2 separate regions of the Homo sapiens genome follow, and region 1 is linked to region 2. Evidence: fine-mapped QTL for protein levels in blood plasma. A gene starts in region 2. The other region holds a variant in brackets. All regions are shown on one strand. Distances are between the middles of the regions. Region 1 overlaps STX16 (syntaxin 16). Region 2 holds the start of STX16 (syntaxin 16).

The links. PIP is the chance, under the fine-mapping model, that this variant and not a neighbour inherited with it causes the effect. The UK Biobank Pharma Proteomics Project read protein levels with antibody pairs (Olink). The fine-mapping took linkage between variants from a reference panel, not from the people measured, so its PIPs are less certain.
Region 1: its variant is fine-mapped to the plasma level of the STX16 protein (UK Biobank, PIP 0.94).

Annotation. Positions count from the first base shown.
Region 1 is chr20:58,659,783-58,665,308 of GRCh38, reverse strand. All of the region lies in intron 2 of STX16 (syntaxin 16), which reads right to left. The region is part of intron 2 of STX16-NPEPL1 (STX16-NPEPL1 readthrough (NMD candidate)); the gene reads right to left. Among named protein-coding and RNA genes, the nearest start is that of STX16, 11 kb to the right of the region's middle. RefSeq lists an enhancer at 3,543-4,042. The variant C/T (reference allele first, on the strand shown) is at 2,695.
Region 2 is chr20:58,649,502-58,654,499 of GRCh38, reverse strand. It overlaps STX16 (syntaxin 16), which reads right to left and starts at 3,217. Exons shown (of 9, transcript NM_001001433.3): 1 at 2,362-3,217. The coding sequence starts at 2,493. It overlaps STX16-NPEPL1 (STX16-NPEPL1 readthrough (NMD candidate)), which reads right to left and starts at 3,247. Exons shown (of 23, transcript NR_037945.1): 1 at 2,362-3,247. LOC107985410 (a long non-coding RNA gene) reads left to right here and starts at 4,865. Exons shown (of 3, transcript XR_005647058.2): 1 at 4,865-4,998. RefSeq lists enhancers at 1,848-2,351, 2,189-2,458 and a silencer at 3,955-4,314.

The DNA.
Region 1 (5,526 bases), 11 kb before region 2:
CACCAGGCACTATAGGACAGGCCGCCAGTGAGTGACGTTAGTGTCAGTAAAGATCATCCTCTCTTACTGACCATCCGTGGACAGAGAGGCGCAGACCTCACCCTCTACAGAGCAGGCACAGAGAGGGCCTGTGCCAAGCACTCAGAGGCAGACTTGTTTATTCCTCAACACTCCTGCTCCAAAGTCACCAAGAGGTACACAACTCTGTGGAGGACACACTGACTAAAAAGCAGGGGGACAAACCACAGGCCCAGCTCGCAGCACCTGCCAGCCATACATCAGGTGCTGTCTACAGTATTGCTGGACTGGAACAGAACTTGAACTCCAGCTGTTTATACAAAGTAAAATCTAAAATTGCTAAAGGACCTCTTCATGGGTCCTAGAATTTCCACTACACCAGTTTATTATCGAATCCACTATATTTTATTATTACACATTTCAATCAGTAATTATTTATAGTGATTTTAGAGTTTTTAAGCTCATGATCTTATTTTGTACTGTTTTTACTGTTTACAAATACACATTAAACTAAAGAAGACAGAGAGATGGTATCTATCTAAATTTACCTGCATTGGGATTAGTATCATTTTATCCAAAACAACAAATTATAAACCACATATGAAAAGTCGGTTGAAGTGAATACAACTCTTTGAAGCAGTACTTGATTTTATGCATGTGTTCCCCTCAAATTAGATGTAAATCAAAAGTGGGGAGAACACACTCTTTGTTAAGGGTCCTAAGGAAGCTTGCTAATTAGAGATTCCTACATGAACAGCATGGATGCCAGCCTGCTCAGCTGGTACTAGCTTTCCCACACATTGTATCAGAGTTTTGCCAGTAAGATAGAACAGCTGATTCTTTGGGAATGAAAACTTTAAATAGCGAATAATTTGTCTCTTTTATGATACAGTCTATAGCTATAGTTCATTATAATAAAGAAACACCACCCTATTGAGAAGAAATGTGTCATTTCTTTTAGCAGTATGGATTTGTAATGTGTATCACAGTATGTACTATTAAAAAACAAGACAGTATGTTTTGGGAAGGGAAAACAATTGTTGAAGATAAGCGTCAACTATTTGAAATGGGAACAAATATGGACATAAACAAATTTTATGTGCAACATAAGCACCCTTTTAATTTCAGAAACCTCACTTTCCATTTAAAAACATGTCTTCTTATTGTTGAAGATCCAGCATATGTATCAATTTTCAAGCTGCCATCCTATTTCATACAGATCTTAAAAAATGGCCAGGTTTCTAATTCTCTCTCCTTACCCTTACTGAATTTCAACATGGTGCCCCCTCCAAATATATGATGTTGGTTTGTGCAGCTGGCCATGGTGGCTCACGCCGGTAATCCCAGCACTTTGGGAGGCTGAGGCAGGCGGATTGCCTGAGGTCGGGAGTTCAAGACCAGCCTAGCCAGCACGGTGAAACCCCGTCTCTACTGAAAATACAAAAATTAGCCGGGCATGGTGGCATGCACCTGTAATCCCAGCTACTCGGGAAGCTGAGGCAGGAGAATCACTTGAACCCGGAAGGCAGAAGTTGCAGTGAGCCAAGATCGTGCCAATGTGCTCCAGCCTTTTATTAAGACAGAGCGAGACTCCATCTCAATACATAAATAAATAAATAAATTTGTGCTTCTGAAGTAAAAAAAAAAAAATCCATATTTTTTAAATAAAAATTGTACTTAAGAGAATTAAGAATTCTTGCCTCTTTGATATGTAGTTCCTCTCTCCAAGAACTACTGGGGTCCGCTACCCTAACCTAGAGCCATCCTTCCTGAGAGAAATGCAGAAAAAATCCAACAGATGTTCAAAACAGCACACCCAATGGCTTTCCTGCCAGTCTCACTAAAGGTATCTTTTGCCTTTGATCCACTTCAAATGTTGACATTTGTCCATTTAAAGAGTACCAGCCAGTATGGACAAGTTCTCCATCTATGGAAAGAACATACACATTCTCTCTTATAAATCTTGCTGTTCCAAATCTATGGCCCTCCTACTCTTAAAAACCCTGCCTTTCCCTGAAGGCTGATTTAGTGTAGACTAAGATTACAGAAATAGCAAAGCCTCTGTGGAGATTGGAAAAGTCAGCTACACCTCCTCCCCATCTAAAAAAATCAACTAAGTTTAGCCGTAACGCATTGGTAATGAGAACAATACCGATAATTCTGGACTGTCTATGGCAATGAACACTTGGAAAGCCCAGAAGGGACACTGAAAATCAACAGACTGGCAACTCACACTTCCACGTGAAACTCTGGGAGCCTGTATGATGAAGTCAGACTACTTCGCTAATAGACAATTAGGCTTAAGAAATCCGAGTTGTTGGAGAAGTGAATAAGCATGTGGATAAAAGAAAAAAGTGATGTCAGCACTACATTTTTCTAAACCCGTAATAATTTTAAAATAATGCTTACCTTTTCTAATTATGAAATTAGTAAATGGTCAAAATAAATACTTTTAAAATGGCATAGGATGACGCAGTGGCTCACGCCTGTAATCCTAGCACTTGGGAGGCCAAGGCAGGCGGATCACTTGAGCTCAGGAGTTCGAGACCAGCCTGAGCAACATGTCAAAACTCCGTCTCTACTAAAAAATACAAAAATAAATAAATAAATAAAATAGCCACGCATGGTGGCACGCACCTGTAGTCCCAGCTACTCAGGAGGCTGAGGCAGGAGAAT[C/T]GCTTGAACTGGGGAGGCAGAGGTTGCAGTGAGCCGAGATCGCGCCACTGCACTCTAGCCTGGGCAACAGAGTGAGACTCTGTCTCAAAAAAATAAAAATAAATGATACAAAAAATATAGAGATAAAAACACTTGAGAATCACATCACCCTGATACTGTTGTTAAGTTTCACTGATTTTCCTTTTTTCTCAACTAACATACATACTCTGAGGGGAAGAAAAAGGAGGGGAGCAATCCGTCCCTCCCTGCCTTCTGTGAGCACTGTACTGAGCACTGCTACTGACCTGGCCCATGCCAGTCCCAAGAACAATCCTTCAGAGGAGCGCCGCTCCCTATTTCACCAACATGGACACTGGGGCCCGGCCCAGGCACTCCCAGATGTGCAGTCCTCCAGGCAGTGTGGTTTGGGGGCTTGACATTTGTTATCTTGTGACTTTTAAAATAATTCTTGAGTTTAAAAACTCCCAGAGATTTCTTTGTCATAAGACAGGAAGTAGATTAAAGACAGAGAACAAAGGAGAGGGCCAGACACTTCCCTGGGTAAGAGAACCAATGGTGGGCTCGGGTCCTCCTCAGGGAACACCTTACTTAGTGTTTTCTGAGAAGGAAAAGTGACATCTCCAGGGTACTCAGGCTAGAGGAGGAGAATGACAATCAAACATGGACAGACTGCAGGAAGCCTCTGAAGTGAGGCCGTCAGATGCCTTTACTCTGGGAGATGCAAGTGATATTCACTCAGGGACATTTGCTCAGGCCTCCCCTATAAAGGGGTGGCTAACATCTAATCCACTCTGGAGCTGGGTGTTCACTATTTCCAGAGATGCCAATGTGAGGCCCTGCGTCAGCTTCAAAGAAGCCTCTGGACACTGTCCCCAACCACACCCCCTGCTCCTAGGCCAGTACCTGGCACTTCAGAGTCCTGAACGCACAATCACAACCAGCTGAGTGATCCGACAAGAAACGAGTGGAATGAATGCACGAGGTAAATAAAATGTACGTCACAGACAATTGTGGAAGCCACACTTCATGAAAAAGATAACGGCACTGCACAAAAGAGCAAAAGAGGCAAGTGAAACGCACAAGGAAATGAGGTGGCCGTGGGCACCCACGATGAGGCAGCAACCTGCATTTCTAATAGCACTGGGGTGAGCGTGGAGGAGATAGTGCTCTCTACGCAGGGCCTCTGATCACAGAGCGTGAAGACTCCCTTTTAAGCCCTTAGAGGTGAAACATAAGAAAAGCAAAAGGGCCTGCCAAGTTCATGCAGTGAGTAGCCAGTTTCTGGAACTTGCTGCCTGAAAAAGGAAGTAGGAAAGACTGGAAATCGGTTCAGACAGCAGACCCCGAAGTAATTATGACCACTTATGTGCCCCTCCTTGGAACATTATTCAAATGGTTCTTCAACCTAAGTGGTTCCATAATTTGTTACCCTCCCTCGCATCCTATACACTTCCTTTTGAGGTCATAAGCTCCATATCTTCAAACTGTTCAGCCAGTAGCAACATCTATTTTAACTCAGAACGCCTGCTCTCCAAGCCCCCAAGCCCTCTCCAGGGCCCCGTGCCCAGGCGGGGAGCTGGCAGTGAGGTTCCTGAATGGGAAAGGAAACCCCCACACAGGCATGACCATGACACCTGGCTCAGTCAGCTACCCGTTGAGTGGTGTTTTTTTTTTTTAACTAATTGTTTTTAGTGGCAAAGTATACATGCACATGGTTTAAAAATATATATCCACCCTAAGAAAAGGGTTTGCAATAGAAAGGAAGTTTTCTATCCCAGATGTTTCTTGGGGTGTATCCACTGTTAACAGTTTCTTGTGTATCTTTTCAGGAATTTTTTAAGCACACACAAGCATAAATATGAGTTATTTTTCCTGAAAAAAAAAAAAAAAAAAAAAAAAAAGGAGCAGGAATCATATTATCCATGCTGCTCTGCATCTGGGTCTTTCCACTCCGCCATGTGTCTGGGGCTTATTCCACTGCAGCTCTCATGGATGGGCCTCACTATTTACCTGTTACAGAGGGTCAGAGATGCTACACAATATATTTAACCAGTTCCCAATGAAGGCTATTTAGGCTGTGCTCAGTCTGTTGTCATTATCAACTAGTTAAGGTTTTTAGAATATATAGGTAGATCTGAATCTACTAGTTAGGACCCCACTGGTTTTAAGGACAGTGATCCTCCTAATCCTACTTTACTATTCATACTTCTAAATGAAAACAAACAAGAACAACCCTCACCTCTCCATCACTCTACTTAAAAGGTCTATACTCAGGAAAAATATTCTTACCCCTTCAATGCTGAAACAGACAATAGACACAAACATTAACAACAGTTTTAATCTCATTTTTTCTCAACCCTTTTACTCCGGCTACTAAAATAAAGTGCTTTGAATATATATTCTCTCCACCTTCTGGGCAAGATGCTAGTAGCTAATAAAAAGGCCAAAGGCACCCCCAGCTAGGAGATGCAGAACTGGGCCCAGGTGACAATAGCTCCAGGTGCATCCACTGGGTGTCATCTCATTCCAGACAGGAGTGACAAGGAAGACCCTCCCACAGTTGCCGTGGCTACAGTCCTTCTCATTTAGGGCCTTCACAGACATGCTGGCCTTCTATACTGTCTACCTGAGGAAGTGCACGACTCACTTCTCAGAAATCAGGAAGCTACAGACATTAATTCTCAAAACATTCTGGCTTCCTTGAAGAAAGTGTTCAACCTTTACTGCTTCCAAAGTTAAGACACTTTCCCAAGACTAGTAAACGATCTTCCCAAAGCCTTTTTTAAATCATCAGTTCACATGGTGTGAAAATAGATTAAATTCTACATATTA
Region 2 (4,998 bases):
ATAACCTCTATTTAGTCTTGTTAGCATTTCGCCGTACTGTGTGCAGAATAGATTTTGTTACGAATCACCTGTAAGCAAAGTGAAGATGTAACACTTCAACCCTAAATACTTCAGAAATTTATGACATGCCATTTTTTAACACAATTAAAATATATAAATCTGTGTTTTATTTTTAAATTTGAATTCAGGCAAACTATGTTTGTTAGACTGCAAAACCTATTTTTGAGATAGTATGGATTGACTATAAGGATATTTTAAATGATATGACTGCTTTCAATGATCTGAGAAAGATTTTAAATGGTCAGACTAATATAAATATTAACATTTTCAATGGTATGACATTTAGAAAACATTTTTTAACGTTCTTAGAAATGTATTTTTAGTTGGGTTTAGAAATCTATTTTCAAAAAACTGTGAGTTAGCTAAATGTATCTGTATATACCCTGACATATCTATTTTTCCAAACTGTATACGTTAACTATCCATTTTTAATTATTCTGCTTAGCTTAAATATTTTTTAAAATTGCCTAACTTAGAAAATAATTTTCTAAAGTGGTCTGATTCAGAGATGCACTTTTAAAAAGCTTCCCGTCTCAGATACTAGGTTTTTAAACTGTCTGACTTAATCGGGAAAAAAAAAAAAACCCTCATGTTACCCAAAGGTTCAGGGTATTTTGAACCTTAATGATTAAAAATTGAAAAATAAACAATATGTTTTTCAATTAAAACTGATACCTTAGAAATCTTAATATGAGTTTCAGTAGTTTTTGAGGCAGCACAAAATCAAGTCATTTAAGGAACATGCAGTTCTTATTTAACATTACTGAAGTTCCATTAAGGAATTGAATTCATCCAATTTCTACTCGATTTCTTGGATTATTTCTTCTTCAAAATTAGCGCTAGAATTAGCCTGTTTCTATGCTACCAGACATCTTTACATTTATTTCAATATAATGTAATTCCTTTCCGTTTATAAATGTAAAAAAAACCCTTCAACTTCTTAATTAACTGAAATCTCACACACACTCTGTCCCTAGTTCTAGGCTGTTTGACCTGAGTTTACATGCTTTTATTCCTGAAACCGCTCACACGGCTTAAAATGACTTTTCTATCAGTTATATGGCCAAAGACATTCTCCACCTGTGACTTACAAAAAGGAGAAACTGTCTTTGTAGACATGATAATCATGACATATGGCAAAATTTTCCTGAAGCATTTAGATAAAGCCATAAAGAAAAAAATAAACTGGCAATACAGTCCCTAAGAGGTGAAATGAATGTTCCAAAATTGCCTAATATCAAGTATAACCCCCAAGAATGTGGTCCTGGGATGGCTATTTCCCGCCTGTTCCAACGCTGCTTCTATTCCAACCTAGTCTGCCTACAGCAGGTAGCCTGAACTACAGCCAGTTTCATAACTTCACTTTTCAATTGAAGACATTACAGAGCTAACGATCACTGTCTGGTATAGATCATCCAGACTCGCCCCTTATTTAACAGAGCAGTAAACTGAGGCTCAGAAAGGGAAAAGTAGCCCCCATTAAAAACAAACCCCAAACAGTAATTTTTCCAGGACCACCCTTAAAAAACGCTACTGCTAGGCTAACTAAAGGTTGTGGTTAATTAAAAAAAAAAAGTGCTATTTTACGGGGTTAATTTTCACATATACCTCCTCAGGCTTTTTTTAAAAAGTTCGAATGGAGAGGAAAGCTTAATTTCCTGTCTGGGAAATGGAAAGTGAAGAGGCTAGCACCTTGAGTCTCACAAACGCAAGCCCCCAGGAAGAACAGTGAGGCAATTATTCACAGGGAACAAGGCCACACAGAGGGCTGCGGGGCCGTTAAAAGAAAACGGGCGGAAAAACAAAACAAAACAAAACAACAACACAACTCCCTCCTCTTTGAGGGGAGGGAGTCGTTCATTTTGCAAGGATTTGGGTCTACGATCCGGCGACCCAGCCCTTAGGACCAAACTGAGGCTCATTACTGGGGGGAGGGGAGCTTCAAACAAAACGAAACAAAAAGGCTTCAGAAAGGCCCAATGCTTCCCAATGTTAGCGTTAAAACATATGTAAATTACAGGCGGCCTGTAGCGCAGTGACGCCAAGGCGGGGGGTGCGGGGGGGGGGGTGCTGCGGAAGTGAGGAGAAGACCGGGCAGAGGTGGAGCTGCGGCCTCACAGCACCGCTTCTTCCTCATCCAGGGCTACAGATGCCCCCTGACTCTAGCCAAGAGATCTTATTATTCTTAGTCTTATTATTCTTATCTTCTCTTTTTAAACAGAGAGACAGACAGAGACAGACAAACAGGCAGAGCCGCAGTGCACACGGTCCGTGTGTCGGAGAGGCCGCCAGGAGACTCACCGCAGCAATGCTACGTGAATGCAGAGGGCTGGAGGTGATGTGACTACTCACTTGCTCGGCTAACAGCTGCCGGTTTTGGATGGAATTATTCCGCAACAACAAGAAAGCGTCGGTTAAACGCCTGGTGGCCATGTCTCACCCTTTGCGACCCCCCTCTCAGGGGCCCCCCGCCCACTTATATTCCTGATTTATTCACTTTCTTTCTCGTGGCCCGGCTGGCCCACCCTTTCACGGAAGCTTCTCGACAAGGCCTCAGGCCTCAAGCCAAAAAGATGCAGCTGTGCGCTTCGCCAAGGCGTAGAGACCCCTCCCCAAATAACTACCTAGGCTTTCCAATTGTCTGACTCCCCCTACCCAGGGCAGACTTCGATCTCTAAGCACTTGAATCCCCCCAATCCTTGCGTAGCGATCCAACGTCCCAGAGACCCCACCCCAATCCAACCTTGGATCTACAAGCGTCTAACTCGCCAATCCGGCTCTAGACTGGGAGGCCCTGAAGCCCCCTACTCCCTGAGACCCCCCGGAGGTCTCTGCTCTCTACCCCTAACTTTGGCTCGTAAGCGTCTAGGCCGTGCCCTGAGGTCTGGCTGTGACTCAGTTTCCGCACCAGAGGCCTGGCCTAGGCCCTCTTTGGACAACCGGAGCCAGGCTTGGGGCCTGGACTCGAGGGCGCCTGCAGCTCCCTTCTGGGGACTTGTCTGAACCTGCTGAGGCCCTGCCCGACCTCCTGACCCCTTCCTTTCCTGGACGGCCTGGTCCTCCACTGCCAGCAGGCTGCCGGCCTGCAGGAAGACAGCAGGGCCTGCCTCCCCGGCCTTCTCACTCCTCTTCTCCGGCTCCCTCCATCCCCGGATCTGACTGCAGCTCAGCCCCGGACCGTTTCCGTGCTGTGGTCCCGGGTTCTGGCGTTCCCCCCTGGCCCTCTTCCTGTCCGTCCCTCGCGAGTGCCCCCCTGCGACGCTCGCAAGCCTTGCTCGCAACGTTCCGGGCGCGGGAGCTCCCTGCACTCCTGCCCCGGGGCACGGGAGTGCTCCGCCCTCTCCCGGGGTGCTCCTCGGGCGCCCTGTTTCGCCTCCCCCAACTGGGTCCAGGCACTAGGAGCAGGCCAACGAGCAGGCCTGAGCCTGGGGAGCGTGGCCCCCAGGCTGCAAACCGCTGCCAGGGCCCTTGGTCGCTGAATTAGAGTGGAAGTTGCGCGGCAGGCAAATTTGGGCTCCCCAAGAACTGAAGTTTTGGGCGCGGGGAGTTGGAGCGGGAGAGGAAAAGTTGGAGACGACTGCCTCTGCAGGCCGAGCACGCTCTACTGCAGGCGGCGGCGCTCGCTTTTTTTTTTTTTTTTCCCACTCTGGAAAAAGATGTATCCGACAAACAACCACGAGGAAATAAAAGGAAAAAAAAAAAAAAAAAAGGAACAAGAACTCCAGGCAGCCTGGCCGCGCCGCCGCTGGCAGTCGGGGGTCGTCGGGGGCGCCCGCCCTCCCCAGCTGCCGCTTTCTGTAGGGGGCACTGCAGGGTCGTGGAATCTCAAGTGGAAAAGTTCCCCGAAAACTTTGACACCTCCCACCCCCCTCCCCGCGAAAAAAATCTCTGTTCCCTGCCTGGGCCCTGGCCCTGCGACCCCCGCGCCCCCCCGTGCCCCGGGCCGGGTTTTCCACGGTTGGCCGGGCCCAGGGCGCCCTAAGCACCTCGACTTGCCGCCCCGGGCCAGGTCGGCGGGGTTCGTGCAGGGGCTCCGTGGGGCCGCGTCGGGCAGGGGCCGCCCGGGCCCGAGCACGGCACCCACAAACAGGCTGGCGTCCCGCGACGGAGACCCGGGTCCGGCCCGGAGCCGCCCGGGAGGCTTGAGGCCAAGGGCCTGGCCCAGCGCGCGGCCGGAGCGGGTCGGGGGCGCAGAGCTGTGCGGCGGCGCCTTCCGGGCCCCGGGCCTGTGCAGGGCCGGCTTCCCCTTGCGGGGCGAGGCTGCGGGCCGGGCTGCGGTGCGGGGTTCCAACAAAGGACCGAGGCCCCAGAAGCGGCCCCCACGCGTCCTTTGTTTCTGCGTGGAACAAACTTTACACACGTGTGTGTTTTCCGAGGGTTTCCCGTGTGCTGAGCGCTTGCAAAGCGGAGTCGCGCCCGGGGAGACGCGAAGCCGGTGCCCGCGGCTCACCCAGGGACCCCAGCCAGACAGCGGCACCCGCGGGGCGCGTGCGGGACCCCCAGGCGACCGGGGGAAGCACCGGTAACCGCCCCCCACCCGTGCTTTTTCTCTCACGGAGAATGTTCCCGCGCGTTCGTTGTGCAACTAAAAATTAATGTGAAACATCCATTGAGGCAAATAACAAAATGCATCCAACGAAACCCACATAAAATCGAGAGAGCCGCGAGCAGGGCTGGGCGAGTTCACTGTGAGGACCGGCTCTGGCTTCCGCGCAGCGCGGAGAGCAGGGCGCTCGCCCGGGGACGCTTCGCAGCGGTGGAAGATTCGGGCGACAGGGGACTGGGTCGCCGCGCGGGCCGGGCTGGAGGCTGCAGGGACTTGCTGACAGGCCATCCAAAGACAGAGAGGCCCTGGGGAGGGAAATTCGGGGAGCCCGTGTGCTTAGCGTAGCGCCCCGGGAAATATTTGCCCAATAAGGGAGAGTTTGTCCCCACACT